Linked DNA regions of Homo sapiens: regions 2 and 3 are each linked to region 1. The links come from fine-mapping of genetic effects on gene expression. A gene starts in region 1. Each other region holds a variant in brackets. All regions are shown on one strand. Distances are from middle to middle. Region 1 holds the start of SNX9 (sorting nexin 9). Region 2 has its middle 55 kb from the start of SNX9. Region 3 has its middle 30 kb from the start of SNX9.

Region 1 (10,798 bases):
ATGGATTAACCTCCACTAACAATTTTCTTCATGTCCCCTTTGACAGACACTGAAAAAAAATTCTTCATTTCTTTTCCAGAACTTGATCTTTTAAATAAAACAGGATGACTGACAATGTATTATATATTTATATATCTCATATATATATAAACTATAATATAATATATATTTATATATTATATAAACTATAATATAATATATGTTTATATATTATATAAACTATATGTTTATATATTATATAAACTATAAGTTTATATATTATATAAACTATAAGTTTATATATTATATAAACTATAATATATGTTTATATATTATATAAACTATAATATATGTTTATATATTATATAAACTATAATATATGTTTATATATTATATAAACTATAATATATGTTTATATATTATATAAACTATAATATATGTTTATATATTATATAAACTATAATATATGTTTATATATTATATAAACTATAATATATGTTTATATATTATATAAACTATAATATATGTTTATATATTATATAAACTATAATATATGTTTATATATTATATAAACTATAATATATGTTTATATATTATATAAACTATAATATATATGTATATATTATATAAACTATAATATATATGTATATATTATATAAACTATAATATATGTTTATATATTATATAAACTATAATATATGTTTATATATTATATAAACTATAATATATATGTATATATTATATAAACTATAATATATATGTATATATTATATAAACTATAATATATATGTATATATTATATAAACTATAATATATTTTATATATTATATAAACTATAATATATTTTATATATTATATAAACTATAATATATATTTATATATTATATAAACTATAATATATATTTATATATAAAATATAATATATATATAAAATATAATATATATTTATATATAAAATATAATATATATATATAATATAATATATTTATATATCATATATATATAAAACCTATAATATAAATAGGTTATATTTTGGCTGGGTCGAAATATAACCTTTGGAGGCTTCCAATAAAGGTCAAGACTAAAATGCTCTGCAGCTTTTGTATTAATATTTGTAAAACAAGACTTGATTGCACTGAGTGAGTGTATACACTTAAACTGAATGCAGCACTCTACTGAGTAAGGAGTAGAAATAGAAAATAGATAATCCCCTTAAAATGTGCAGTTACTGATTAACTTTCCTTTTTTTTTTTTTTTTCTTGAGATGGAGTCTCACTCTGTCACCCAGGCTGGAGTGCAGTGGCGCAAAATCGGCTCACTGCAAGTTCTGCCTCCCGGGTTCACGCTATTCTCCTGCCTCAGCCTCCCGAGTAGCTGGGACTACAGGCGCCCGCCACCACGCCCAGCTAATTTTTTTTGTATTTTTAGTATAGATGGAGTTTCACCGTGTTAGCCAGGATGGTCTCGATCTCCCGACCTCGTGATCCGCCCGCCTCGGCCTCCCAAAGTGCTAGGATTACAGGCGTGAGACGGCGCCCGACCCTGATTAACTTTCTTTAGCAGTGAAGGACTGTCAAACTAAAGTTCTTCTTCTAAAAGATAATTTCCTTTTTTATTGTAAAATATAGTAGTGGAGTTTTTAAAAATCCCAATAGTTCAGTGATAACCACATCCTTAATACGTAAGAACAAACAAGAAAATTGTATCTGAAGATACTATAGCCAAGTCTCTGATAAATTCAAAGGGAAATCGACATCCCTTAAAATATCCAGATACTGAATTTACTTTTCATCAGTTAATACTTATAGCAACAGCCTGAGTGCCACTGGAGCCTACATTTTTATTAAAAGTTAGTCATTACTACTAAGCACATTCTCCCCACCCCTTGAAGAAGACAAAGAAAAAACACAACTACTCAGGTGTGGGGAAGGAGTGTGCATATGGGGGAAGGGAGGAAAGCACCAACTTGACTCTCTGGGAACAATTAAAAAATGAGACTTTGGTTTGACACAAGAATCACCAGCATGTCAGAAAACAAAGGAAGGGTCTTCTTTTAATAACTGCTTCGTTGCTCTTCTTTTTCTTAAAATGGAAATGGTTTGTCACAATGTAAACATGGAAATGAGCACCATGTGGAACAGTGATTAGGCAGCCGAAAGAAACTAACAGAACTACTGGAATTTGCCTTTGGAGTGGTGTAGATAACGAAGTAGGAAGTCCTTACGCATGCTTTAAGGCTCGTGTTTAATCAAAGACACATGCAATTCGAGATTAATATACAAGAACCACTTTTCGATTTTTTGGAAAAAAATTAAGTTCAGGATTAACTATGAAATAAAAATTTCACTATATATACCTGCACTAGTTGCTAAACTGCATTCCACTTAAAGGACAGTACAGATAACATGCCTCAGTAGACCAGAGTGTAAAAACACACTGACCACCACTAGACAGATCTCTATGTCATAAACCGTCTTCTCTTTTTTCAAACGGAGTCTCGTCTTTTCTTTTTTCAAACGGAGTCTCGCTCTGTCGCCCAGGCTGGAGTGCAGTGGCGCGATCTCGGATCACTGCAACCTCCGCCTCCCGGGTTCAAGCGATTCTCCTGCCTCAGCCTCCAGAGCAGCTGGGGCTACAGGCGCGCGCCACCACGCCCAGCTAATTTCTGTATTTTTAGTAGAGACAGGGTTTCACCATATTGGCCAGGCTTGTCTCGAGCTCCCGACCTCAGGTGAACCACCCACCGCGGCCTCCCAAAGTGCTGGAATTACAGGTGGGAGTGAGCCACCGCGCCCGGCCTATAAACCGCTTTTAAGGTTGCAAGATGAGCATGTACTAGGATGTGTAACTGGTAATTTCTGGAATGTCTGGCAACAAACCTCAAAATCAAATTTCCTTAGAAATCCTTGGCCTAAGTTTTATTTTTAAAAAGGTCAACACAAAATTAATACGTTAAAAAGGTGGCAAGTTCTATCGCATTAATAAAACCAAAGCACAGCACAGGCAATAATATATTAACAAGAAGGTAATTATTTCAGTAACAGCAGCAACAGGTTCCCTGGAGGAGAATCCCCATTTCTCTACAAACGCTGCACCTAGATGGATTCAGAGCACAAAATTTACCACAGCACAACATCTAGCAGACCGAAGTCAAGCAATGCTGATCTTTCAAAGAGATTTCACATTTCTTACCATTTTCTACCTTAACACTCCACAAAAAAAGCAAACACCTATCGAAAAATAAAAAATAACGTTTCTAGCAACCCAAAAGTAGCTCAGAGATCTCAAAAACAAATAGACAAAGGGGTGCTGATGCTAACAAAGTGACATTACAAAAACTAAGTGCAAAAGTAAACCCACTCCTCACAGTGTATCACAGATCAGTTAATGGCTCAGGTATAGAGCCTCCTCCCCCAGGTCCTCCCTTCCGTGACCGTGACTTCCCCAGTGGCTATTCTACATCAAGTAACTACTGAAAACGCCCAAGGAAAAGGAGCGGGGGAGGGTGGCTTTTGAAAATTCAGGTAGCCAAGAGTGACTGCTAATTTCATAAACAATAACGTAAAACAAGCAAACCACCGCTCCTAGCCAATGACGAAGCAGGAGTCAAAGTTCCACCACGTAATTCGGGCCTGGGCCTTTTTTCAGGCAAACACGTAATCGAAAGCACAGTCATTTCCCTCTTGATATTTTATTCATGCCGGCAATGCCATTCACAATGAAAAGGTAGCAAAACAAAAGAAAAAAATAACAGCAGCGAAGGCAAAGGGGCGCGGGGCGTCCCAGCCTCGGTCCCTCCCCGGCCGCGAGCCCCCGCAGGCCGGGACGGGAAGCGCCGCGTCCTCTCCGCCGAGGTCTCGACCCCCACCCGCCCCGCGGGGGCGAGGGTCCCCCAGGCGGCAGCGGGAGGGGACGTGGGGGCGGCGGGGACGCCGGACGCCACAGAGCGCCAGTCGCCTCGGGGGCCTCCCCGGGCTGCGGGAAGTTTCCGTCCCGCGGCCCCTCCCGGCGAGCCCGCCGCAGCCCACGCTCAGGTGCAAACTTCCCAAACCTCGCTGCGCCCGGGGTCCCAACCCGCGCCCAGACCCGACGCCGTCCCCCGGTGCGATCCTGGTGGTCTGTCTGCACTGCCCGCCGCACCCATGCCCAGAAGGGACTGGCTGGGCCGCGGACCCGCCCGGGGACTCCACCGAGGAAGCGGAGTGGCCCCTCGACCACCCCTGGCCCCGACCCTCCCCGCGGCCCCGGCCCCGACCCTCTCCGCGCCGCCCCGGGCCTGAGCGACCGGCCCGGCCTGCGCCGCGCGCCCCTCACCTTGGTGGCCATGGCGGGCGGGTCCCCCGGCCCGGGACGGCCGGCTCGTCTCCCGCGCCGCGGATGGTGATTCTGAGCCGCGCAGGCAAAGGCAAGGGCGAGGGCGGCGGCTCCGGCTGGGCCCCGGCGCGGCGGCCGCTCCTCCGCCTCGGCCCCGAGTCTCGACGCTCAGGCCCAGCCGCTGGGCGCTCGGCTACTCCCGCGCCGCACGCTCCTGCAGTTCCTGAAAGTCCCCGGCTGCGCGGCCCCCGCCCCTGTCGGCCGAGCCTCCCATTTACCGCGGCGCGCGCGACGCCCGCCGGAAGCGCGCCCTGGGCCCTCGGCCGCGGCCCGGCCTCCTCGCCTCCTGGCCGCCCCCGCGCCGCGCCGCCGCCCCGGGCAGTCACCGCCGCCGCCGCCGCCGCCGCCCCCGGGCGCCCTTGGTCGAGGCTGGGAGCGGCGTCCCGCGCAGCGGCGGGGTCCGGACGGGCGCCCCAGGCCATGGCCCGCAACCCTGCGTGGCCGCCCCAGGGGAAGCGATCCGCGGCCCACAGAGCCGCTCGGGGTAGCCGAACCCCGACTCCGGTTCACGCTCGGCCGGCGCCGCACGCCGTGGCTCGGCGCTTTCCGTGCATGAGGCGGGAGGGGGCGGCAGGAACTCTCGACGCCCCGGGCAGACAGGAGCCCCGCAACCCCGCTGTCTTTGCCCCACGCCTGGGGTGTTGCGGGGTCGCCGTGCCCTTGGCCGAGTACCCTGAGTACCACATAAACAGCTGGGAAGGAGCGGAGCGATGGCTTCCTGGGCCTCTTCCTCCTGCCCGGAGGCTCCCTCAGGCCGGGGTCCTGGCTTGAAGCCCCTGGGACGGGACGGTGGGGGGTTTCGTTCTGTGACGCCCCGTTAACCTCATTCTGGAATCTTGATAAGCTTAAAAATACCGGAGGGCCCGAGAGGTTTGGGGGACAACAGGCTCTCTGAAGTGGAAACGAGGTCTCTAAAATTTTCCATCTTTCTGTCAGTGTTTCTTTCCAGAGTTGGAGATATATATATGGGTGTTATGAATAAACGAATGACTTGAATTGAGCAGCAAGATTTTTCACTCAAGGACAAAACACGACTGGAAGATGTGTCTTAATTGGCATACTAGTGGAGTGCTTTTTTATTATTATGAGGGATATATTTGTAAGAAGAGACAACTATCAAATGTAAATCTCTGGTGTTTAATGTCAAGTTTGTGTCTTCTTAAATACATTCTATTTGACCTGAGATTTCACTAGTTATATTCAATAATGGGGTTTAAAATAGATACGGTATTGCAGAATTTTCTGTGAATTTTTGTGTTTGTTGAGCTCATGGTTAAGCTATAGTCATCATAATATGCATAAATAGTTGTCTTTCTCCGTAAAAAAAAATATTGGGAGGCCAACATTCATTGACGGCCTGCTTGCTGTATACTAGGCTTCCACATCCCCATCTCATTTAATCCTTATAAGAAACATTTGAGAAACTCATTATTGTCCACTGTTTACAAAGAAGAGCGACTCAGGGATCACTTAAATAACTTGCCCATTTGGTAATACTTATTCAAATCGAAAATGACCGTAGCCTTGGACCCAGCAGCCCTCCTGGGAATTTATCCTGTCAAACACTTGTACAAGTGTTCAAAGATGTTCATCAAAGATTGTTCTGTAATAACTCCAACCAGAAAGCAACCTATGTGTTTGTTAACAGGACTGTTTCAGTAAATAAGATACATCCATTCAAACAAAAATACTAGGAAGCCCGTAAGAAAATGATAATATTCTAAGAGGTGTTAAGAAAGATAAAAAGAACATTATGTATGGTACATTTATGTAAAAAAAAAAAAAAAAAGGAAATATGTGACACATTCCTAGAAAATTTCTGAGAAAGATTCGCCAGATCCTGTTGTCAGAGTTTTTGACCATGTGTATATATGACTTCATTTAAAAACAGCAGTTATATTTTAATAAACAATGGAAGAAATAACTTGGCTAAGAGCACACACTAGTATGTGGAAAAGCCAGGATTTGAACTCAGGCAATGTCATAAGTAATGAGTTTTCCATATTCTTTTAAATGTGAAGGCTGGGTACAGCTCTCTCTGCAGCCGTTCAACAATGCATCCCTTGATAGGAAGGTGCAAAGTTAGGGGCACACCTGTGAAGACAGGCCTTTCCACATGCTCATCTGGCAAATCCTATGCAAATAGTCATCCTGGGCACCCAGCACCATGAAAGCAAGAAGACTAGAGACTTCAAGCTTTTCCCACCAGAACAATTTCATAACCCTGGTTTTATTTTTTAGAAGTAATGGTGGAGGGCTAAGGTGGAAGGATTGCTTAAGCCCAGGTGTTCAACACCAGCCTGGGCAACATAGTGAGACCTCATTTCTAGAAGTTTTTTGTTGTTGTTGTTGTTTTAAAAAGAGCAAGACTGTGAAAAACAAATGAAAAAGTACATAAACAGAGATAAACATGGCCGGGCGCTGTGGCTCACGCCTGTAATCCCAGCACTTTGGGAGGCTGCGGCGGGCGGGTCACGAGGTGAAGAGATCGAAACCATCCTGGCCAACATGGTGAAACCCCGTCTCTACTAAAAATACAAAAATTAGCTGGGCATGGTGGCACGCGCCTGTAGTCCCAGCTACTCAGGAGGCTGAGGCAGGAGAATCACTTGAACCCGGAAGGCGGAGGTTGCAGTGGGCCGAGATCGAGCCACTGCACTCCAGCCTGGGCAAGACTCCGACTCAAAAAAAAAAAAAAAAAAAAAGAGATAAACATGTGCACTTTCACAATAAGCCACACCGAAGGGATCTTGAACATAACTAAAATCTTTTTCACATTTTTAGTAATGAATTGGGTAGTATATCTCCAGTAAATACTGCTAAACTTAGGAGTTTTATTTTTATATACGTCAGTCAAAATCAACATTACTTCATGAATGTTATAGAGGAGACCCACTTTCATAGAATATATTTGTATATAGAGAGAGAGACTGGGTCTTGTTCTGTCACCCAGGCTGGAGTGCAGTGGCCCAATCTCGGCTCACTGCAGCCTCCGCCTCCCAGGTTCAAGTGATTCTCCTGCCTCAGCCTCCGCAGTAGCTGGGATTACGGGCACCTGCCACCATGCCTGGCTAAGTTTTTTTTTATTTTTTATTTTTTATTTTTAGTAGAGACAGGGTTTTGCCACGTTGGCCAGGCTGGTCTCAAACTCCTTATCCTAAGTGATCCGTCTGCCTCAGCCTCCCAAAGTGCTGGGATTACAGTCGTGAGCCACTGCACCCGGTGGTGGCGTTTGTCTTCTGCTCCCACTTGATCAACCATGCATATCTCTCTTCTGTCCACCTCCGTCCTTTGAGCGAGCTTCCTTAGAGTTGATTCTCTACGCAGGCCTGCCTTTAGAACCCAGAACCCAGAACCCTGGGCCATGCTAAGTTCAGATTTTCTTCTACAGCATGAACTTCCATTACTCCAGGGGTGAGAACACAATTAGTTAAGCAATTGGATTTGCATTTGCAGACTGCGTTTGGTTATTACTAGATTGCACTTTCAAAAGAAAAAGACCTGGAGGCAGAGCAACAGAGCCACTCTGTTTAGGCTTTGTACTCTAGCTGCTTTTTTTTTTTTTTTTTTTGAATCATGCCACAGGAGGTAAAGTGATTAGGATTCACAGGAAGCTTCGTCCAGCCACACAGCTGGGGGGACAGGAAAATAATGACCACCACCTCTTCCCTGCGTTTGTTCAGTATGGCCAGGTGTTTTTATTCAAAATTAGATTCTCCTTTGGTTTTTAAGAGCTCAGAGCCCAACTAAATGCTTGGTCAACTAATGGGAAACTAGCATGGGAAAGTGCAACTATGGGAACTAATGTGGAACGGAGTGAAAATGTGTGATGGTCACCTAATGTAAGGATCGGAGGATGAGAATAATGTGTAACAATACAGAGTCAGCCTGGGTCTGGCACAAGGGGATACCTCCTCTCACTTTAGGGCATGAATTTAATGAGGTTAAAGAAAACCTTGGGGTGACCTTGAAAATAAACGTGGAAAGGAGTGCAGCTGGTGCCATTCCAATCCTAATAAACGTATGACGTCCTCACCTTGGACTGGATGCTGTTACAGGTGAGGGAGACAAAAGTCCCTGCTCTCTTAGAACTTAACAATCTGTAGAGGGTGGGGGAAGTCAATAAACTACAAATAAATGTCTAATGTGCCAGGTGCTTTTATAAGTGCTCTGAAGAATCTTTATAGGAATAAAGAGAAGCAGGAGAGGTTTTTTCCTATAAGGTTTCCCCTTGGCATTAGACTAGCTGAATGTATGTATGAAAAGTGTATGGTTTTAAAATTATGTTTGTTTTAGTTGGTTAGCTGATTGGTTGGTTTTCATTTTTGTTCCATTTTGACTAAGTCACATTTCTTTCTCCATCGTCTGGGAGACACAGAGCCGTAAACAGTAACGGGACATAGTGTCCAGAACTAGAAATTGAGCAGAAATCTGACTGCTAGGACCTGAGCAGTCCAGGAAGGGACAGTTGGCATGGGCAGAGAGAGACTGGAGGCTAGGGAGGCTGCATGGATGGCAGAGGTGGCAGCAGCAGGCGGTGTTAGGCTGGAACAGGAACCGTTTGCTCAAGGTTCTATACTAGACTGTTTGCTGAGTTTGGGTAGTTCCGACTCCCAGAAGGACTGAGCTGTGAGGTGAGGGCAGCAAGAGAAGATTGGCTCACCAGTTGGCTTCCCAAATGAAGTCCCAGCCTGTAGGATCCCTGGTGTCTCATGAAACTTTGCCCTAGGATATTGTTTTAATTCTTTGACCTGTTAAGGACAGGCTGGCGTGAGTCCTTGGAGACGTACTGGCATTCAGTGATTGGGCACAAAGAAGTAACAGTGGATATAGGACATTTTGCTAGTTCATGTGTCATTGCTCAAGTTACAAACTGTGATGGTTAAAACTGAGTGTCAACTTGATTGGATCGAAAGATGCAAAGTATTGATTCTGGGTGTGTCTGTGAGCCTGTTGACGAAGGAGATTAATATTTGAGTCACTGGGTTGGGGAAGGCAGACCCACCCTTAATCTGGGTGGACACCATCTAATCAGCTGCCAGCACAGCTAGAATATAAAGCAGGCAGAAAAACGTGAAAAGAATAGACTGGCCTAGCCTCCCAGCCTACATCTTTCTCCTGTGTTGGATGCTTCCTGCCTTTGAACATCAGACTTCAAGTTCTTCAGTTTTGGGACTCAGACTGGCTCTCCTAGCTCCTCAGCTTGCAGGTGGCCTATTGTGCGACCTTGTGATCATGTGTGTTAATACTTAAAAAACTCATATATATATGTATATATATATATGTGTGTGTGTGTGTGTGTGTGTTTGTGTATATATCCTATTAGTTCTGTCCCCTCTAGAGAACCCTGACTAATACACAAACTATAGAGAGTTCTTTTTTTTTTTTTTTTTTTTTTTGAGACAGGGTCTCACTTTGTTGCCCAGGCTACAAACCAGTGATGCAATCACAGCTCACTGCAACCTTGACCTCCAGGGCTCAAGTGCTATTTATTTATTTATTTATTTATTTAGAGTCAGAGTCTCCCTCTGTTGCCCAGGCTGGAGTGCAGTGGCACGATCTTGACTCACTGCAACCTCTGCCTCCCGGGTTCAAGCAATTCTCCGACCTCAGCCTCCCAAGTAGCTGGAATTACAGTGCCTGCCACCATGCCCAGCTAATTTTTGTATTTTTAGTACAGATGGGGTTTCACCATATTGGCCAGGCTGGTCTCTTTGGCGAGGCTGGTCTCAAACTCCTGACCTCGTGATCCACTGGTCTCGACCTCCCAACATGCTGGAATTACAGGCGTGAGCCACCACGCCTGGCTCAAGTGCTACTTTTAAAGCTAAAAGCCCCACATAACATGCCAGCACACACTGACACACTCTCATATCCTTGCTTTATGGAAGGCAACTCTAATGACAGTGCTTGCTAAATACAAGTACAGGACATTTGCTGTGACCGCCATGATTTAGAGCCAGACACTGCAAATTACAGCCTCCATCCCTTGTGAGTCCTGTTCTCCTTCCCCAGGGCTTTCATCAGAAAGCCCACCCACTGCTGAGTGCTGAGTGCTGAAGAGATGGCCTTGGTCGTGGCATCAGGCATCCTTGGCTTGAAACTCACTTCTGCTGCTTGTCACCTGTGTGAACTTGAGCAGGTACTTTCATCTTGATCCTCAGTACCAATGTCTGTCTTGTCTGTTCAGGCTGCTATAACAGAATACCATAGACTGGGTGGCTTATTAACGACAAATGTTTATTTCTCACAGTTCTGGAGGCTGAAAAGTCCAACATCAAGGCACCAGCAGATTCAGTGTCTGGTGAGTGCCCCCTGGTTCATGGACAGCCATCTTCTCGCTATGTCCTCACATGGTGGAAGGGTGAACAAGCGCGGTGGGATCTCTTTTATAAGGCATAACTCCAATCATGAGAGCTCTGTCCTCATGACCTGATCACCTCCC
Region 2 (10,798 bases), 54 kb after region 1:
GACCCAGTCAGTATTTGAGGTGAATGAATATTCTTTCCTGATCAATTTGTGTTGTTTTCTTCTTGACTTTTACTTAATTAAAAAAAATACGATTAAGGGAAGCATGACATGAGAAAGGATTGTAGGTGTCTTCTCTTAGGAGAGTAAACATGAAACAATGGAGGCTGAATGTGTTTAGAGGATAAATATGCTCACCAGTATCTCAGCTGGAATTGCCTTAGTGACGACATCATCACTTTCCCTCAGATGTGGATGTCGAGTTTGTAATACCAAGAACCGTTGGGAGAAGCTCCCGTCGTCTGCTTTCTCGTCTCTCCCCACCATTCTCCCTGGGTGGCCTTATCCGTGTCCAGCTCCAGCTCACCCCTTATTCCCCCATGATCTCCATTTCCAGCCCAGATTATTTCCTAAGCTCCACGCTCTAGTGGCCTCCACGTGTTTCCACCCAAAGATTTCCCATATTGAGGCTCCTTACTTGGGCTCAATGTGCCTTAACCTAGTTTTCTTAACCTCACACTTTCTTAACCTCACACTTCTGTATTTTCCTATCTCAGGGAAGGTCCCTGGACTAGTTTCCTGGGCTGCCATAACAAACTACCACAAAGCAGGTGGCTTTAAAACAGCAGAAATGTATTCTCCCCCAGTTCTGAAGGCTGGAAGTCCAAAACCAAGGCGGCGTTGTGGCCATGCTCTCCCCAGAGGCTCTGGGGAAGGATTCGTCCTCACCTCGTCTGTTTCAGGCGCTGCCAGCGGGCTGTGCTGGTCCTTAGCCTGCGGATGCATCACCCCACTCTCTGCCTCCCTTTTCACTTGGCCTTCATCCCTGTGTTTGGCCCCCATTTTCTTTTCTTCTAGGGATGCCAATCATTGGACCTAGGGCCCACTTGGGGTCTATTCCAGCAAGACTTCATCTTAATTCGATGATATCTGCAAAGGCCGGCCCTATTTTCAAATAAGGTCACAGGTACTGGGCATTAGGACTTGAACATATCTTTTGGGGGACACAGTCCTACCTGCTGGGAGTCCCACTGCCTCCTTCACCCCAGAAATCCTTGACCCATCCCTGTCCTCTCCTTCACACTCCACATCTAGGCTGTTTATCCTATTTTTAAAATAGCTTTCATGTTTTCTCTGTCCTCCACTCCACTGTCTTAGTTCCAGCCCTAATCAAGCTAGATGACCATGACAGCACCCCTACTCTTCCTCTTTGCCCTTTTGAGTCCCCCCAACCCATCCTTCAGCCAGCATCCTGGTTCTTAAAATTTGGCTGCCGGGCCGGGTGCAGTGCCTCACGCCGGTAATCCCAGAACTTTGGGAGGCCAAAGCAGGCGGATCACTTGAGGTCAGGAGTTCGAGACCAGCCTGGCCAACGTGGTGAAACCTCTCTCTACTAAAAATACAAAAATTAGCTGGGAATGGTGGTGGGTGCCTGTAATCCCAGCTACTCCAGTGGGTGAGGCAGGAGAATGGCTTGAGCCTGGGAGGCGGAGTTTGCAGTGAGCCGAGATGATGCCACTGTACTCCAGCCTGGGTGACAGAGTGAGACTCCATCTTAAAAAAAAAAAAAATTGCCTACCAGCCAGCCCACTCTGGATATGTCCCTGGCAGCTCCTCCTGCGTGCATCTTGGGCGACACTATCTCATTGACTCATTCTCCACCATCCTTTCCACCTCGATTCCTCTTCTCTTCTGAGAATCAAAACCAGTTCCTACCATCTCTGAACATTTAACTGCCTGTTAGCAGCTATACTATTTTTAAAAATACAAGTTATTGAATAATTACGACATATATATTATAAATGTAAAGTAGATATTACATCCATTTGTGTGTGGGGAAACTGAGGTTCCCGTGGGTTAAGCAACTTGCTGAAGAGGGAGCTGATGTTTGAACCTAAAACTCTATGGCTTTAAAGCTCTTCCTATTAACTGTATTACTAGGCTTCAGAAGATTTAGCCTTGTAAATATCTGGAAGAGCTTGCCAAGTTTCCTGTTCTTATAATTTTTAGTATTTTATAGACACTGTCTGCTGTAAGTGAATATAAAACACCTAAAGAAATTCATGACGATGATCCATACCTCAGTCATAAATGACCCATACCTCAGTCATAAATCCATACCTTAGTCATAAATGACTAAGTTATTCTTAGTCATTTATTTTCTTATTTCATAGTGAACTAATAACTATTTGGTTCAGAGCCTACAGGCCTATCATATTTTGCATAGCAATCCTGGTGAATTTATAGACAGTTGCCTGAATAATGAGCTTATTGTGTTACATCTTAAGTTTTGGTAAAGCCTTCTCTCTTTTTTTCTCCTTGAAATAAATATAAGCATAGGTATATTCACAAATTGTCTTTTAAACCTTTACAACAATAATTTTATTTTCAGTGCAAATTTTGTTTAGCATGAGACTCAGGCATCCTATGAAATTCTTAGCCAAATAAAATAATAAATCTTTTTTTTTTTTTTTGAGAAGGAGTCTCGCTCTGTCACCCAGGCTGGAGTACAGTGGCGCGATCTCGGCTCACTGCAAGCTCTGCCTCCCAGGTTCATGCCATTCTCCTGCCTCAGCCTCCCAAGTAGCTGGGACTTAAAGGCGCCTGCCACCATGTCTGGCTAATTTTTTGTATTATTATTATTTTTTTTTAGTAGAGACGGGGTTTCACCGTGTTAGCCAGGGTGGTCTCGATCTCCTGACCTCGTGATCTGCCCGCCTTGGCCTCCCAAAGTGCTGGGATTACAAGCGTGAGCCACCGCACCCGGCCAATAAATCATTTTTAAAAAGTATTTTCTGGCAAATAGCTTACCCATTTGGTGTTGGCTTGAACTTGTGGAATTTCTTTAGTTTGACTTATTAAAGTAAATGAAACTTGGGTGAGGAAAATTCCTGTTTTACTCAGGCAGCCAACTCAAAGCTCATGTTATTGAAATGCCCTCAGTCTCCTGTCTCCATGGCTGGCGAGCAGGAAGTCTTCCATGCGTGCACTGCTCTGATGGACTTTATCCACACACCATCCCTGACACACTCACAGACACCATCGGCCCTGAGCTGGGCGCTGTGAGCCTCCCTCACACTCCTGTCCTGCCTGATGGTATCCACAAAAAATCTGGAGGCCTTGGATGGAGTCCACGTACCATTAGCTGTGCGAAATTCTGCATAGATCTGTGGAAAACGTTCAGCCCTGGGCAGGATCAGCTACATAATTTGCAGACCTGGTGCAAAATGAGACTGCATGACCTCTTGTTCAAATATTACTAAGCATTTCAAGATGGTGACAACATTTACTCAAGCACTGAGCCCAACCATGCGCTGGCTCAGCTCACCTGCCCGTGAAGCCAGCCATGCCCTGGGGGCTGCTGTTCTGCTTTCAGACCCCTGGTGCTCTCCTTCTTCAACCTGTTATCTGGGACCTCATTTTCACCTGCATTTGTCATCGATTTCCAAGCACTGCTGGGTGTGTGGCCTAGATCCCTCCCCACAACACACCCAGTGCTTCCCCTTCCACTGCCTCTCCACATGGGCCTCCACCAAAAATCCTCCACACAGGCCTCCAGACCTGGCCCTTTCTGTCCCTTCCTTCCTTCCCTGACATCCTCAGCTCCAGCCAGGCCTTCTCCGGCCTTGGTGTGTCTACTGTGGCTTTCTCCCACGCTGCCCTCGGGAGGGATGCTCCTGGCCCCTGAGCCTCCTTACAGGTGACCCCCTCTGCCTGAATCGCCCTTCCTCTCTGTCTTCCCCTGGCTGACGCTTACTCAGCCTTCAGGTCTTGACTTCAGCACAACATCCCCTGTCCTCCAGGAGCTTTCCCTTCCTCCGCAGACCAGGAGAAATCCCCTGGCTGCCCACGCCCCAGCGTGCTCTTCCTGCTGGTACAGCTCAGTGTATTTCCTGTCCACGAAGATGGGGGTGCCTGCGCCTGCATCAGAGTAGAACTCTGCAAAAATTTGTTGATTGTTGGTCGGATCGATGCCAGGCTCTCTGGTGAATTCAGTGTCACACACAGAGAGAACTGCTGTCACTTAGCAATGAGGGAAATGCAGTGCCTGCTGTTGCTGCTGCTGTTGCTGCATGGGAGGCCCGAGGAGCATCCTTGGAGCTGGTGGCTCTGCTGAAAGACAGCATGGCTCATCTGAACAAGTACTGCTCACCAAAGTGTCCACTGCTTGTGTTGCTATTAAGTGTGTATTTATTTATTTATTTATTTATTTATTTATTTATTTATTTATTTTTGGAACGGAGTCTTGCTCTGTCGTCCAGGCTGGAGTGCAGTGGTACAATCTCAGCTCACTGCAACCTCTGCCTCCCAGGTTCAAGTGATTCTCCTGCTCCAGCCTCCCGAGTAGCTGGGATTACAGGCTCCTGCCACCACTGCAGGCTAATTTTTGTATTTTTGGTAGAGACGGGGTTTCCCCATGTTGGCCAGGCTGGTCTCAAACTCTTGACCTCAGGTGATCCGCCTGCTTCAGCCTCCCAAAGTGCTGGGATTACAGGCTTGAGCCACCGCGCCCGGCCAATTGTGTTTTTAAAAAGTGACTTCTGAGATGATATGTGCGTTTCAAAATTTTCTTCTCTGTTTTTCTGGTTTGCAACAATATGCGTATGGTACTTTGATGGTCATGAGAAACAACTTGTCCCCAGGAAATTTTACGTTAAAAAAAGTACCAGGCAAGGGCAATTTGCTGTTAGGGTTCATTTGAATTGCAAATGTATTTCCTCTGGCTGGAAAGGGGAAACATCTTTCCTGACCTGCTCTACACCCCACAGAAGAAAGGGTATGAAGAGGAAGTGAAGTATGGTGTCAACGGTGCCAGTTCATCTGCTTCTAAAAACATTTATGTAAAAGTAAGAAGACAAAACAGCCATCGCGCTAAACCCAGGGTGCTGCTGAGCCCCAGGGTGGTGTTGACTGCTGCTGAGGTCCTGACCTGGGAGGAGAGTGAGGGCCGGGCCTTCAACTCCAAGGCCATGGCTGTAAGAAACAATCATTTCCAACCCCACTTAATTATCTCTCCCCAGTCACTTTCTTTCCTTCTGTTATATTTGTCTTCTGCCATGTAGGTAAAGGAAGGAAAAACAAAATTTAAGAAAAGTCTATGGAGTAGGTTAGGCGGGGGTTAGCGTGGATGGTGAGACCGAAGGGTCAGAGGAACATGAGACAGGTCAGACTGGGGTGGCCAACTGTCCCAGTTCACCTGGGACTGAGGAAGTACCTGGGCCTGAGACTCTTGTTTTAAAACTGGGATGGTCCTGGACAAACCAGGAAGAGTAGATCCCCCTACTCCCTGATGGCCTGTGAGGCAGCAGACATGGCCCAGCTGTCCCCCCAGGAGCCTCCACTCTGAGGTCACATGCCCTGCACCTCCCCATTGCACCCTCCGAGGGCCTCACAGTATTACCATTTACCAAGGCAGTTCTGGGAATCAATTCTGGCCTGACATTGGGAACCCAAGCCATACTTTCATCTTCAACATGTCACTTTTTAAACAATTTTCTAGAATGAAATTACTTTAACTTTTGTTTTAAAATGATTTGTGATTAAAGAGAAAACAGGATCTTCATATGAACTGAGATTGTGGTACATTTGAACAGTCAAAATTGTTCCGTTTAACTTGCATTGAATGCAAATTTCAGTTCCT[A/T]AAAAACCCAAATAAAGTAATAAATGTTCAGGGAAGGAGGTTTGATTTATCTCTTTCCCAAAATGATGACCTAGTAGGAAAATTGCTGATTGAGGAAAAACACATGGAAGGTTCGCGATAATGCAGGGACAGACTTCATGGCTGCTAGAGGGTCGCCATGAAAATAATTTGTGTCGGGCCCCACTTTCCACATACTACCCTCAGTCTTTCTAATGACCCCATGAGGTAGGTGCTGCCATCATCCTGGCTCTACAGATGAGAAAACTCGGAGCAGTGAAGTGGCCTGAGGACAGGCGTCCAGGCCTCACTGTCACCAGCGTTGACAGCATTCCCATCATGGCTTTGCTTCATCTTTTCTTATTCAAAGACAGAGAAAAGAAAGTCTGTTTCTACTTCTGTATGGCCCTTGTGCTAGCTCAACCGCTCAGAGCAGGGGAGTTAAAGTGCCAGCAAGCGAAATACCTCCAGCTGAGTACCAAAGATGAGACAGTCAGAGGCAGCTTCATATTGAAGGCAGATCCTCTGAGTATGTCTTTATTGGGGAACTGACATTTATAGATGACAAAGAGCTTTCACATTCATTAGGTCAAGGAGGAGAAGCAGCGCTAGTAACAGTTGAAGGAGTAATTAGTAATAGTAACAATAAAAGTACCTTTCATTTAGTACTTGTCACATACTGGGTACATTTACCTATATATATTTCTAATTTTCAAAACAACCCAATGAGGAAACTGAGACCCTGAACGTGGCTTTATCCCAAGGCTAACCCCAATGTCCAAGCATTTTGCACTTTATCATATTCACATTTTCAAAAAAGTTTCTCTCATTTTACAGTTGAGGAAACAAAGATTTATTGGGGGTACAGGTTTCAGTGATTACACATCCTTAGAATCAATGGGCCAGATTTCACACCCAAGTGTCCAGAAGCCCCTCATACAGAACTCAGAGTCAGTGCCTGAGAGAAGCCACAAGGCTTGTCCAATCAGCTGGCATCCCGAGCCCCACAGAAGGATGGGATTCCAAGATAGTAGTTAGGAATCTTTTGGTTCTATGGGGTACAATCATCCAGAGTTAAGCAAACAAGAAAAATGTAATACCTGAGAAGTGTCCAGTAGAAGCAGGACTGGGCCTCCGCAGAGCTTGTGGAAGGGCAGGACTGAAGTCTGAGAAGCTTTCAGGGCTCTGTCTCTCGTTGCTGTAGGCCAACTTCCACGCACCTCAGTGCAAGGTGGGGAGCACGGAACATGGTCTGGGGAGCACCAAGTTACACATTTTGAGTCCAGCAATAGGAAAGATTTCTTTGTTCCATTTTATATTCCAGGGGAAGCGCCAGTGAGTGGCTAAGTCTGGGTAAGGTCGCCATCCTGGTCCACAATATTATAGACAGGAGGCAGGTGACCTGTGACAAGTTCATCCCTTTGAAATGGGGGACCAGAGTTACCAGAGAGCTGGGAATCATTGTGAGTGGACGGAGGACTCAGTAGGTGTCCATTGTTGTGTCCAGGTGTCTGAATTCAAAACAAGTTAAAATGAAGCATCATACTCACACCCAGACAAAGTTAAGCAGGGACTAAGTTAGTGACAAGATAGTTCACCAACTATTTATTAAAATCTTCTGGAAAATATGTGTGTGCTGTAAATATTGTCTTGATGACAATGAGCTGTTTTTAAAAGATTTTTTTTAAGGATAATTTGGTGGGGAAACGTGCTCCCAGACAACAATGCTCATGGACCCAAGACCTTTTAGAAGATTTTTGGTGCAAAGGAGTCTGCACGGAGAGGCTTTCCTGACTCATACCCTACTTGTTTCCAAAGCTCCCCTGTGAATAAATATTACAGCAGGAGGGTCAGGATGGAACATTAGCAGATGTGAACATTTTGGCTCTTGAGGGTGACACTGCTGAATCTATGCCAGGTCCTCTCTCTCTGGAAAATTACTAAACTACGCTCAAATGATAAAACAAAACAAATACATTTCAGGCGGGGCGCGGTGGCCTACGCCTGTAATCCCAGCACTTTGGGAGGCCGAGGCGGGCGGATCACGAGGTCAGGAGATCGAGACCATCCTGGCTAACATGGTGAAACCCCGTCTCTACTAAAAATACAAAAAATTAGCCAGGCGTGGTGGCGGGCGCCTGTAGTCCCAGCTACTTGGGAGGCTGAGGCAGGAGAATGGCGTGAACCTGGGAGGCGGAGCTTGCAGTGAGCCGAGATCGCGCCACTGCACTCCAGCCTGGGCGACAGAGCGAGACTCCGTCTCAGAAAACAAACAAACAAACAAAAAAAAACAAATATATTTCAAAATGAACACCCGAAGCCCCCACAGTCATAGCTGTGTGCCTCCATGCACCTCTGCAATGTGGTGGGAGCGGGAATATCCATGCCCAAATACTTGCCCATAAATATCTCCCATCTAACTCTTTGTGGAGGAGATCAGATCCGAGTGGAAGGGCTCGGTGTCCCTGAGGGTAACGCCCATTGTCTAAGCAAGAGGAGTCTCTTTCTAACCCTAATAGGCTTGTTAACTCTTGGTGTTCTTCCTGTTCCTTTTTAGATAATCTATTAGGTTGGCACAAAAGTAATTGCAATCTTTGCCATTAAAAGTAATGGTAAAAACCGCAGTTACTTTTGCACCAAAATAATACATCACAGGTTTATACTCAGCCTTTGTTACTATTTTAGGTTGAATTATTTCCGTGCAAACCCTCAGAGCACAGGGATCTGTAATTATACTTTGCAAGAGATGTTACGTGCTACCAGCAAATTTTCCAGCTCAGTGATGCAAGGCAGGAGCTGTACATCTTCTCACATGTGGTTATTCATTCCATACAGTACTGAGAAAGAGCCTTAGTCACATTTGGACTCCCTAAGGAAGTGTCAGGCCACATCACTGCAGCCACATTCCTGCACAGAGCTTGCCTCAACCTCGCTCCTCCAGGCGAGCTCCATGCCGGCCACGTGATGGCCCCCGCCAGTGTTGAGAAGTGATTCATCGTCAGCTCCAGGGGAAAAACAGACTGTGTAGGAAGGTTCCATATGACAAAAACATCCGGATTTTTTTTCTTTCTGCCTTCTACTGGGCAATTCAGACCTTGTTATCATACAATTGAGGTGGAAATGTGACGTAATTAAACTGATTTATGAAAGTCACATACAGAAACCAGAGTCATTTTTTAGAGCCCCAGTGTGGTTAAAGTTTACTTCCTCTGTACATTTATAGCAAAGGCTTTTGAACATGGTTGAGGGCAGAGAGCCAGTTTCGGGTAGATTGGGAGAAGGTCTATTTGCTGGTTACTGCTGCTTCAATTTATATTTCCCCCTCAGTTTTACCAAGGAAAAGGCCTTAATGGACTGAATTCAATGTGAAGCTTGTGTGATTCTCTATCTGTGGCCACTTCAATGTGAACGCCAATGACCATGAGCCGGGTAATGACTTGGAAATATACTAGACAGAGCACAGCCATGGGAAATACCACGGAAGACTATGTTAGCTCCAGAATAACATCATTAAAACTAGCTTAATTTAGTACAGCATCTGGATCAGAAATAGTCCTAAACATGCATACACAAAGCAAGTATACATTTGCATGATACGTACACAGAGCTTTAAAAAGCAACCTGGATATAGTGTGTCAGTTTTCAGAAAGGGACCAAGATGAGATTAATGAACCTTGACACCTGCTTTGCTCTCTTCCACTGCCGTAGAAATCCTCTCTGCTGAGAGTCTGGCATACTTCATAGATACAGTATTTGGAGAAGCAGCAAGGCTGGATGGTTTGTGTAACACACTGGAAACGTCATGAGGCTGATTCTAGATTTGCCAGTCATCAACTGGGGGCACTTGGCCACGTTTTCTAACTCACAAAGGTTTTCCAGGATAACATTTCATGCTACCTCCCCTTGGTGTTTTGAGGAATCGTCAATAGGACAGACAGGCAAGCACATGAGAAACATAAGCTGCTAGTTGGCACAGGTGTGTTGGGCTGCTGGAATCAGGCAGGTGTATGGAGCCGGGTGACTCATGGAGGAGGAGGGGTTCCACCTGGAAGGGACACTCCCTGGTCTCTCTCCACATAGCTAATGTGAGTCACCACATTCCTGGCTCCCTGCCTGACTTGCTTCCGGGTCAACCACGGAACCCCAGGGCCACCTGGGGTTGGGCCTGCTCCAGCTGTTCCCTTCGGAGCCTTGCCCTGCTTGCTTTGCACTTGTTAGAAGAGGGAGCAGGTACTTCCCCGCAGGGACCTGTGTCTGCCTTCAGCTGTCTAAATTCCATGGAGAAGGCCTGGAGATCCATGGGGAAAACTCCTTTCATTCTGGGATGGTCTGGCCTGGAAGCCCGGAGCAGCTTCCTCAACCCCGCCGCCCTCCCCTTTTCCCTGCCTTGTACCCAAGGAGCCCCAGCCCCTACTCCACATCACAGAGGGCAGAGGTGGAGCCCACCTGGGACGGTGGCCACCTATACCCTCATCACCAGGCCTACATCAGCACCCTCTGGGCGTGACTTCCCTCACTTTCTAGGTAATGAAGAAAAAGATCGTGTTTTACATTGAGACGTATAATCTGTGTAGCTTGGAAGAGGAGAATATGCAACCCCCAAATATGCATAAGGATTGTTGAGCTGAAGGCCATTAAAAAGCAGATGCAGGAGAGCTCTCTGCCCTCGCTCTATTTGCCTAAAGCGGGGCACAAAGACAAAAGGTGTCCTGTCCCCCTTCCACCAGGGAGAACAAAGGTTAACCACGGAAGACAATTTCAAACCCTGTCAGCCTGGAGATGGTACTGGAGGAACCCACATGGGCAAGCCTCACCGAGCAGCCTTCCTCTGCCAGTTGTTTGCTTCTCCCCAAGTTGCTGCCCCCTAGAGACTCGAAATCCTTTTCTGCTTTTATTTTTAAAATATTTTAAAAAATACTTCCCCCAACCCCCACTGCATCCTCCCTAGCCACAGCGGGCTCCGGGACACTCTTCAGAGTCCTTTTCCTTTTCCTTTTCCTTGTCACTTCTCTAAATATTAGCTGTTCTTTGTTGAAGATACTGTCTAAGCTGGAATTCAAAGGCATCTCTCCCTGGTATCTTCCATGTGCATATTAAATACACATGATACTAAACTTCTGTTTGTTCCATGTGCATATTAAATATACATGATACTAAACTTCT
Region 3 (10,798 bases), 30 kb after region 1:
GTCTTCTAGGTTTTCTCCCCTTTTTTCTTTTGATGCTAGTAAGACTCTGGTAAGGAGGTACTTTGAAACCATGAAAATATTCCATCCCTCATTAAATGTTCACCCACTAGTTTTATTATCCACTGGTGTTTGCTGGTTGCATTAATAATTACTAGGTTGCCAAATACCAATTTTCTAATTCCATCATCCCTTGTACATTTATTAGTTAGCATTTCACTGTAAGAAAAGCTTTCTTTTCCCCACGCTTATTTATTGTAGCATCTCATTGCATCAGTATAGACTTCCGGATTCCTATTTTATTTAGTGGACTATCATCCCTTACTATAGTTACTTATTTTGATGCCAAGTTGTCCTGGATTTGTCCAGTGTGAGGCCCATCAAACTGGTTTCTATGAGCTTTTAACATGTTTCTGTCCTTCAATGAGCCTTTCTCTATTTTCTGGCACAAAAGATATTCCAGGCCCATCTTGTATTTTCCCTGCCCCAACCCTGGAATCAGTCATTTCCCCAAGAACCTTGGAATCCTTTTAGTAAAGAATGATATTTAGAAACCAAGGTCTAGACTCTAGGTGTGCACATTGTGAATGGGTATCATTGCTCTGAGGAAGAGTTAGACAATCGATCTATCTATTATTTAAATAAAAATAGAGCTATAGATGTATCTATCTACACACACACATACAACCACATATGTATCAGACATTTACATTTATTTTCATTTCTTTATCTCCATATGTCAAAGCATATGCTTTATATTATTACTATTGTGTATATTAAAAACTGAATTCATACCGATACTTCCAATTCCAAATCTAACACCACAGGGTTAATTCTAGTTTTTTTCTTTCCAGTACTCTATACTATGCTCCCAGACATGGATGACAGGGGGGCAGGAAGGAAGGATGCTTCCTAACAATTTAAATTCAATTTTTGTGTTATTTTAAATTATTTAACTTTAATTAGAAATTACTTGTGTATTTTACATTTACAGAGCACTTGCTGTGTGCCAGGTACTGTGGGCCTTTACATGCATCATCTCATTTAATTCTTGCAACCATTCTCTAAGGTACATAATATTATCCCTTTATCCATTTTACAAAGGAGGCAACTGAGGCTTACAGAGATTACACAGTAGGAGCACAGCTAGGACACTCCAATAATCATCTTTGATAGTAATTAAAATTTTTTTAAGTATTTATAATATATAATACCTTCTAGATATGTATTATGTGTATATCAGCAAACAGATTTTTATCTCTGTCCTTTGGGGTTATATTTTATTCTGGTGAGCAAGAAAAGAGCTGAGCTTATTGTGTACTCGCCTTTATGGAATGCAGCCATTTAATTAAATCCCTGAATTGTCATCAGTACCTAGAATAGTGCCTGTGTGTAATAGATACTCAACAAATAGTTTTTGCATAGATGGATGATCAATACATCTACGCAGCATGTAATGACAATGAAGTAAACAGGGTGCCCACCGAAACATGGTTCTCTTTTCCTTCATTGACATATAGGAGGCCACACTTCTTTGCCCCCTTGCAGTTAGGTGGGATCCTGTGACCAGTTCTGGCCAAAGGAAAGTGAGCAAAAGTGACTGTCGAGAAGCCCCAGTCTCTCTTGTCCTGCTGTGGCAAGTTCCAGATGGCGCAGCCACCAGATGGATCCTCTGGCAGCCTGGCTCCCCACCCAGTCTATTCCCCTCTCTTCCCCCACTGCCTTGCTGACCAACAGTAGAGTTTTTGTGAGAGATGAACTTTAATGCCACTGAGATTCTCAAGGTTAACTTGTACGTCGTAACCTGGCCTGTCCTGACTCACACCTCTCTTCTCTGGTCTGACAGATCCAATATAAATTTAAAAAAGCTATACTCCTTACTAATAGTCCAAACACCATTCCGTTGGCAGTTTAAGGAAATAACATGTGTGAGATTTATCCAAGAAACAGCATTGCGAGCATATTTATATTGAAGGAAGCACTGAAGAAGACAGGAACAATAATTAAGAAAAAAAAAAGATCACTTAAATCCATGGGTTAAAGGCATCCTGACAGACCTCGTTGGCTGTAATTTCATGTGGATCCTTCCTGGGAGTGACTTCAGATTCTGACTTCCTTTATTCCTAAAATGCCAATTCGTCAAGTCACACTTCCTCTTTAAATAAAATACTGATTTTGTTCGTAGTTTTAAATTTAAAATTTTTTACTTACAGGAAGATAAGAAGTATAACTTTTGTCCAGTAACTGGCTAGCTTTGCACCTCTACGTCAAAGATATTTTTAGTGTTATACCACCCCAGACGCTGTTCCAACATTGAAATTGTACTTAGGTTAAATTGGGAAGACTGTTCCCTTTGCCCAAATGTGCTTTTGGCATTATTCCTATGAAAGTTTATAACAAGTTTATGTGTAAAAGCAGAGGGAATAATATAATGAATTACTATAAAATTATCACTTTAATTTTACAATTGTTAATATTTCACCATGTTTCATCTATGTTCCCCTTTGCTGAAGTATTTTAAAACTAGCCCCAGACATCAGGACACTTAACCTTTAAATACATCACTGTACATCTCAAAAACCTAAGGATATTTTCTTATATAATCATAATGCTATCATCATACCTAACAAAATTAACAACATAATTCTTTTACAATATCTGATACCCTATCCACATTCAAGTTTTCTAAAATATCCCTAAGATATGTTTTAATTTTTAAGTTTTAAATTTTTGAGATGTAGTCTCTCTCTGTCGCCCAGGCTGGAGTGCAGTGGCGCAATCTTGGCTCACTGCAACCTCTGCCTCCTGGGTTCAAGCCATTCTCTTGCCTAAGCTTCTCGAGTAGCTGGGACTACAGGCACACTACACCATGCCTAGCTAATTTTTGTATTTTTAGTAGAGATGGGGTTTCACCATGTTGACCAGGCTGGTCACAAACTCCTGACCTCAAGCAATCCGCCCGCCTTGGCCTCCCAAAGTGCTGGGATTACAGGCATGAGCCACCGTGCCCCGCCTCAAGATGTGTTTTTATATTTCATTTTCATATTTGGTTTGATGGGACCTAAACTAGGTGCACATACTGCATATGATTGTTCAGTTTCTAGTCTCTGTTGATCAGTTTACTTTATTTTAAAATTCATCTTGATCTATTTCCTTTCAATTTTCTACTTTTTTTTTTTTTTTAAATTCTGCTCTTCCAAATCTTTTCCTTTTTTGGTGGAGGAAGTTTGAGCAGGACAATATTCTCACCTTGCATCTGGGGAAATCTAGTCTCTTTTTTTTAAGCATCTCATATTCCTGGTCTTTTAAAAAAAGACAATATAAATATAAGCTAAATACTAATTTTTAAAAGTAAGTCATTTAAAACATCTAGCTAATAGGAAGCTAGAGAATAAGTAGAGTTTTATGTTTTATGTATTTCATGTTTGCTAAGTTTATCTGGGTCAGAAAAAGAAACTCTCTTTTATTATAAATCTTTAGATGTAATGGCCTATCAGAAATAAGACTTCTCTTACTAATTCTTCAAGAAAATTTCCTAGTCAAAATAAATAAATAAAATATAAAGATGTTGTGTGTTCGTTTTTAGCAGTCTCTATGGACAAAACAATGTAGTAGTTCAAGAAAATATCATTAATATCAAGTGATTTAGGGAGTAAGAAGACTTGGCTTTAGCCCTGCCTTTACTGTGAACTAATGACTTGAATAAGTTCTGTAAGTTGTCTGAGCCTTAGCTTCTGTGTTAGTCCGTTTTCATGCTGCTAATAAAGACATACCTGAGACAGGGTAATTTATAAAGAAAAAGAGGTTTAATAGACTCACAGTTCCACGTGGCTGGGGAGGCCTCACAATCATGGCAGAAGGCGAAGAAGGAGCAAAGTCATGTCTTACATGGTGGCAGGCAAGAGAGCGTGTGCAGTGGAACTGCCCTTTATAAAACCATCAGGTCTTGTGAGACTTATTCACTATCATGAGAACAGCAGGGGAAAAACCCACCCCTATGACTCAATTACCTCCCACTGGGTCCCTCCCATGACACATAGGGATTATGGGAGCTACAATTCAAGATGAAATTTGGGTGAGGACACAGCCAAACCATATCAGCTTCTTCACGAGAAAGCTTAGCCTAGTTGACCAACAAGATATACTTTTAATATTCTAAAATTTCATAAAGCCAAATGTCTGCAAAATAAGAAAACCATTTTTGTCCCCCAACAAATATACCAGGTCTTAGGGTTTCACATGAGGCTGTTTTCAAAGCAGACCCCTTGGAGCCATGTGGTCATTTACCTGATGGGGCCACCCCTCAAAATATTTTTGTAAGTACTTTCAAATCAGGTTATAAGCCACACAAGAAAATAGGAACTACTGCTTGATGGTCATGTCTCCTCTTTTATTTCATAGGTATTTGTTGCAGACTTGCTAGGTGCATGAAGAATTGTGCAAGGTGCTGGGGTTGCTGAGGCAGGATGGGTGCAAGCATGAGCAAGACCAAGTCCTGCTTGCTAAGGAACTTAGCTTTTTGTAAAAGACCAGCATTCGCTAGCATCCTATTAATTAGATATTTTGAGTGAATTACTTTAGAAAATTAGTATTTAGCTTATATATATATTGTCTTTTTTTAAAAGACCAGGAATATGAGATGCTTAAAAGAAGATACTAGTTGGAGGGAACAAAAAAGATCTGGTTGGAGGGAAGAAGTTGGTACATACACAAAACAATGAAAGGGAATGAATAAAAACTTGGCGGGGGATGGGGAATATTTTTGGCATAGCATGAATGTCTCCAAAGCCAAGGTCCTTGGGTTTCAGAAATGGACCTCCTCAGCTGTGAAGACATTAACTTCTATTTTGAAGCCAATAAAATGCCTCCTACTTGGTATTTATCAAAAGTAATTCTAAGGCTGGGTGCGTGGGCTCACGCCTGTAATCCGAGCGCTTTGGGAGGCCGAGGCGGGTGGATCATCTGAGGTCAGGAGTTTGAGACCAGCCTGGCCAACGTGGTGAAACCCCGTCTCTACTCAAAAAACAAAAATTAGCTGACTGGGTGTGCTGGCACATGCCTGTAATCCCTGCTACTAGGGAGGCTGAAGCAGGAGAATTGCTTGAACCCGGGAGGTGGAGCTTACAGTGAGCTGAGATTGTGCC[A/T]CTGTACTTCAGTCTGAGCAACAGAACAAGACTGTCTCAAAACAAAAACAAAAACAACAACAACAACAGAAAAACCCAGTGATTCTGGTATCATCAGGCTGGCACGGGGTGGATATATGAACAATAGCTGGAAGTGAAAAAGTTCTGAGCATCCACTGGACAAGGTTGAAGCCAAAACAAACACACTAAATACTTTAAATAATTAACACATGCTCTTTTAAAACACTGAGCATTGAAGGGCTCTTAATAATATGAAGGACCAGGGGCTGGGGGAGAGGTGGGAGGCCAGCTGGGGAGAATGTTGGTCAAAGGATACAAAATCCAGCTAGGCAGGAGGATTAAGTTTAAGAGATCTATTGTAGAAAATGGTGCCTTTAGTTAATAAAAATATATTTTCAAAAATTGCTAAGAGAGTGGATTTTGTGTTTTCACCCCAAAATGGTAAGTATGTGAAGTAGTGCACATGTTAGTTTCATTTAGCCACTCTACATTGTATACATGTAGTAAAACAACATAGTGTACATGATAAAGATATATATTTTTGTCAATTAAAAAATAAAAAATCGGCTGGGCACAGTGGCTCATGCCTGTAATCCCAGCACTTTGGGAGGCCAAGGCGGGCAGATCACGAGGACGAGAGATCGAGATCATCCTGGCCAACATGGTGAAACGCCATCTCTACTAGAAATACAAAAATTAGCTGGGTGTGGTGGTGCGCGCCTGTAGTCCCAGCTACTTGGAGGCGGAGGCAGGAGAATCGCTTGAACCCGGGAGGCGGAGGTTGCAGTGAGCTTAGATGGCACCACTGCATTCCACATGGCAACAGAGTGAGACTCTGTATCAAAAAAAAAAGAAGGAAGGAAGGAAGGCAGGGAGGGAGGAAGGAAGGAAGGGATGGAGGGAAGGAGGGAGGGAGGGGTAAAATTAGAAAAATAAATTAATTAAGTAAAATAACTGAATTCAAAAGGACTGGATCCCACGGAAATCCAAAACAAAGAGACAAGCAACAATATGAAGGAGTTTTGCTTTTCTTGTGTTTCCAGATCACCTTAATTAAATGTTCCAGGGTTCAAGTGTTTTCAATGGGGTTAGCTTTCTGCTGGATTATTTTTTCTAAACCTCTTGTTAAATGATTCCTTCATAATCATACCAATAGGTATCCCTCATGTTGACTGGAAATTTTAATAATTAGTAACTTGTTGATGAGGTAATGAATCCAAGCTGAGAAAGGCGTAAGAGAAAAACAATCATTACCCCCGTGCAATGCAAGAGCTTGTCCTGCTGGAAATATCAAGTGTTGCCCTGATGTGGGCTAATTACCAATTGCTCTGGACTGACTTAACAGCCTGCCACATTTTTGTTGTAACACCTGCAGTTTGTGCCAAGGAGAAGAAAGGTGTCACATTGCCAAGTGCTAGAGAAGTATTTGTTGAGGAGGATGGGCACAGCTTTTCAAAAATACTCATAAGCAAAATCATGATTCTCATTTATTTATTCAAGATACATTTATTGAAAACCTACCAAGGACCAGGCATTGTCCTAGGTGCTATGGTTTATGGTTATTTCAGGCATTTTCAGCCAACTCAAACAGGAGACTGATTGGATAGTTGCAGAGGGGACTAATTGGCTTTCAAAGAAAGAGACAGTTTATTCTTTGCTTTGCTATTAGGAAAAATAACTTCCATTGTATGTACTAGACTACAAAACTTTCTTCTGAATGGAATAGACAATAGCAATAGAAGACTATCATCATTAATTTAGTCACTGAATTAATTTAACCTGCATATGCAGTTTGGGAGGTGAAAAATACATGATGTCAAAGTATTCAATGGCATAAGCTAGAACTGCAAGAATCTGACAGATGCTCACTCAAAAACCTTCTGATACAATCTGTTTATAAACAAAACTGAAACACCAGAAACAATCTTACTAAAAAACCCATAGTTACAGCCCTAAAATGCATCAGAGTGACTCCAACGAAATTTGTTCTCATCCAGTGGGTTCCCAAACCGTTCCAACAATGATGATCGAAACAGTTAGGAGCCAGACCACAGGATTTTAATGGATTCAGCTGTTTCAGCCTTTGAAGCACCTAATTCTGAAAGCTGCTGCTGCTACTTCTGTTTCCTGCTACTTAGGGAGAGAACAGAGAACCAGAAAGACAAAGGAGTTTCCTCCCAGAACCCTACACCCAACTTCTGGAAGACAACACAAGAGCAGAATGAGAGGGAGGGCAAAGCTGTGTGGGATGCAAGGACAATTGGCTGAGGTGGGCTGTGGTTGCAGAGATAAGGCCTGGTCATAGAGTCAAAGCTGAGCTCACAAGCAGTGCCAGGTCTCCTGTGTTATCCCAGAGCTTCCCAGTTGAATCCTCCCAAGGACCGAGTCCACCTCCTACCTTATCTATTACTGCCCTGGTTAGGTTGAGAATACAGAAAACAGGGCTGGGGGTGGGGGGAGTGGGGTTGTGTGCCAGTCTCTCAATCCTTTGTAAATGGAGGAAGAAAATAAGGACTGTCGGATATGATTTTTGTACCCCAGACCCTCCCTGTCAATCTCACAACAAACAGGCCACAAATGAACAAAATCTTGAGGAAATCACCTGCGCTGCCCTATCTTCTCTTCTTTGTGGTGCTCTTCCTATTTCAAAGTGCCCCCATCAGCTACCTTTCTTTACTCTTGTTATTAAATTAAAGGTTTTGATTTTAATGTGCTGGGTATTGGAAAGTCAGGCTGTGTTAGAGACTGCAGGTTTTACCTTGATACCTGTTTTTTCTCCTTACAGGAAATGGAATTCCCCCAGGGAAAACTCGGAACAAGACTACATCTCCCAGTTCCCCTTGCACTCCCTGTGGCCATGTGACTAGGTTCTAGCCAATGGTAAATAAGCGGCAAGGGCGTGGGAGTGCAGCATCTCTAGAGGGAGTGGATGCACCCGTCCTCCCTGCCTTCCTCCTTCCTGGCGACGGTGTGGAAAGTGGTCCTGATGGCTGGAACGCGAACACCAGCGTGGACCCAGAAATGGAAACCGCGTGTCGAAGTTGGTGAAGCAACAAGACAGAAGGAACCTGGGTCCCTGCGGATGGTGGAGCTGCCCTGGTCACTCAGACGTAACTGATGAGAGGGCCAAATGTACGCTTCTCTTGTTCAAGCCTTTGTTACTTTGGGTTTCTGTCATTCGGACTTAATCCTAAGCGATGTAAAAGCTGCCACTCGCTTTCAGTTAAAATAATAACTGAGACTGAGCGCTTATTCTGTGATTATTGAGGACTTTTAGGTTTCTTAACTCATTTAATACAACAACTCTATGAAGAAGTACTGTTATTTATCCCTATTTTGTGGATAAGGAAACTGAAGCACAATGATATTACATAACTTGCTTAAGGTCACACAGCTGATAAATGGCAGTCAGAACTTGAATCCAGGCAGTATAACTCAAAGTTTGTACAGTCTTCTCTTCTACAGTAGAGTTTGCCGTCTACAGCGGGATGGCCAAATCCAGCCTGCTGCCTCTTTTTGTAAATAAAGTTATATTGGAACACAGCACATTCATTCATGGATTGTCTATGGCTGCTTTCACCCTGTAATGGCAGAGTTGGGGTGTTTTAACAGAGACCATATGGCTCCTGAATCTATAATATCGACTAGCCATCCCTTTACAGAAGAAGTTTGCTGACCCTTGTTCCACAATATACTGCTTCTAAACCTGTTGTGGCAATATATAAATTTATATAAAAGGTGAACTAGGGGTGATTATTTTGGAAAATAGTTGACAAATCTTAAGTAAAAACAATTTTTTTTTTTTTTTTTGAGACGGAGTCTCGCTTTGTGGCCCAGGCCAGAGTGCAGTGGCGCTATCTCGGCTCACTGCAAGCTCCATCTCCTGGGTTCACGCCATTCTCCTACCTCAGCCTCCCGGGTAGCTGGGACTACAGGCGCCCGCCACCACGCCCCACTAATTTTTTGTATTTTTAGTAGAGATGGGGTTTCACCAAACAAAATTTTTGAGAGCCTCTTTTGTACGAGGTACATCATTAGGCCCTTTTCATAATTATTTTGTTTATTCTTTACAATTGGCCTATAAAGTAAATGTTCTTATCCCCATTTTGAGGATGAGGAAATTGAGACCCAGAGAAGTAAGTAAATTGCCCACAGTGATACAGCTATTAAATGCCCAAGTGAGAATTTGAACCCAGGATTTCTGATTCCAATCCTATAGCCTCCATCCACTATATCATGCCACCTAATTAAAAGCATTTAACATACAACTTAATTTACAGAAAAATGGGCTTTTCCAGGAAAACAAAGCACAGTTGTATGTTGTGAACCTTTCGACAAAACTTTATGTCGCAAAATTTAGTGAAGGATTATTTAAATCTGTATTATAAGGGATGATTCCACCACCCTATAATATTTAGTGGGTTTTGGTCTAACATTCCCCTACCTAGAAGTGCTGGGAAAACTAGTTCTAGAACATCTTTTTAGAATTTTGATTTTTCTGAGTTGTAAAAGAAGTTAACCGTCTTCAGAATTGTGCTTCAAGTATAAGAGATTTTGAATGAGAATAATGAAATATGGGAATCTTTCTAGACAAGCCAATGCAGACATAGTTCACTGTTGATGCCTTAGCTCAATGATTTATGATCCTGTAGCTGGACAGTGACTTTCATCTTCTAAGGTTCATAAACTGCTAAAAGAACCTCCAGGCTTTTTCCCTTGAAAAAAATTAATATCCATATTTAAATAGTTTTTCAGACCCTTGAAAGCTTATTGACAACATATGGGTGTCCCTAGACCCCCAAATTAAGAGCTTCTGATTTATCTCTAGTATCTTCTCTCTGTTATTACTAACAATATAACTTTGGACAAGTTACTTAACCTTGCTAATCATCAATTTCTTCATCTGTATAGTAGGAATAATAATATTCAAAGATTGTTATGAAGACTGAGATAGCCACACAAAGTGCTGAGTATGTACTTGTTGGATAATAAGCATTCGATAATATTAGCTCTGATTATTAGAGTTGGTTTATGTTTCCTAACTTTGTAATGTTCAAACAAAAGGCTCAATTCCAGTTGATGAAGATTCATTGAACACTGCTTATATCCAGCACTGTGCTGGGATTTGCAGGGGATATTAAGGTCTCATGAAAACACGGGTCATTCAGTTATGCTACAGAATTTATAGCTTAAGAATATGTAAGGAGTTGGTAATTTATAAAAATGATAATTAGCTATTAGTGAAATCTACTTTATTTTTGAATTCAAATATTTATACAAATTTAATTTATATCATATATTTATAATATTATAGAATATTTCCCATATTCTCAGAATTCGTAATGATGATATTAATGACCAATGTTGATGTAACCTATACAGTCTTGGGTTGGAAATTATGACATAATGATGCCCTGAGCTTTTCTGAGCTGCTGCTGCTTGGGAGTGTGTATTGGTCAGGGTTCTCCAGGAGACAGAAAAAATATATACGTACTATATATGTGTATGCATATACACACAAATACACACACACACACACACATATACACAGAGAGAGGGGTGGGGGGGAGAGAGAGAGAGAGAGAAAGAGAGATTGAGTTATTATAAGGAATTGGCTTGTGTGATTACAGAGGCTAAATCTCAAGATCCTCAGGGTG

Evidence for each region. PIP is the estimated chance that this variant, and not a neighbour inherited with it, causes the effect.
Region 2: its variant is fine-mapped to the expression of SNX9 in whole blood (TOPMed, PIP 0.93).
Region 3: its variant is fine-mapped to the expression of SNX9 in whole blood (INTERVAL, PIP 0.98).

What each region holds. Positions count from the first base shown.
Region 1 is chr6:157,816,942-157,827,739 of GRCh38, reverse strand. It overlaps SNX9 (sorting nexin 9), which reads right to left and starts at 4,494. Exons shown (of 18, transcript NM_016224.5): 1 at 4,294-4,494. The coding sequence starts at 4,305. RefSeq lists an enhancer at 3,666-3,715 and a silencer at 4,366-4,685.
Region 2 is chr6:157,762,474-157,773,271 of GRCh38, reverse strand. No RefSeq gene overlaps it. Among named protein-coding and RNA genes, the nearest start is that of SNX9, 55 kb to the left of the region's middle. RefSeq lists enhancers at 8,671-8,720, 9,611-9,680, 9,253-10,452, 9,954-10,798 and a silencer at 9,211-9,320. The variant A/T (reference allele first, on the strand shown) is at 5,639.
Region 3 is chr6:157,787,347-157,798,144 of GRCh38, reverse strand. No RefSeq gene overlaps it. Among named protein-coding and RNA genes, the nearest start is that of SNX9, 30 kb to the left of the region's middle. The variant A/T (reference allele first, on the strand shown) is at 5,142.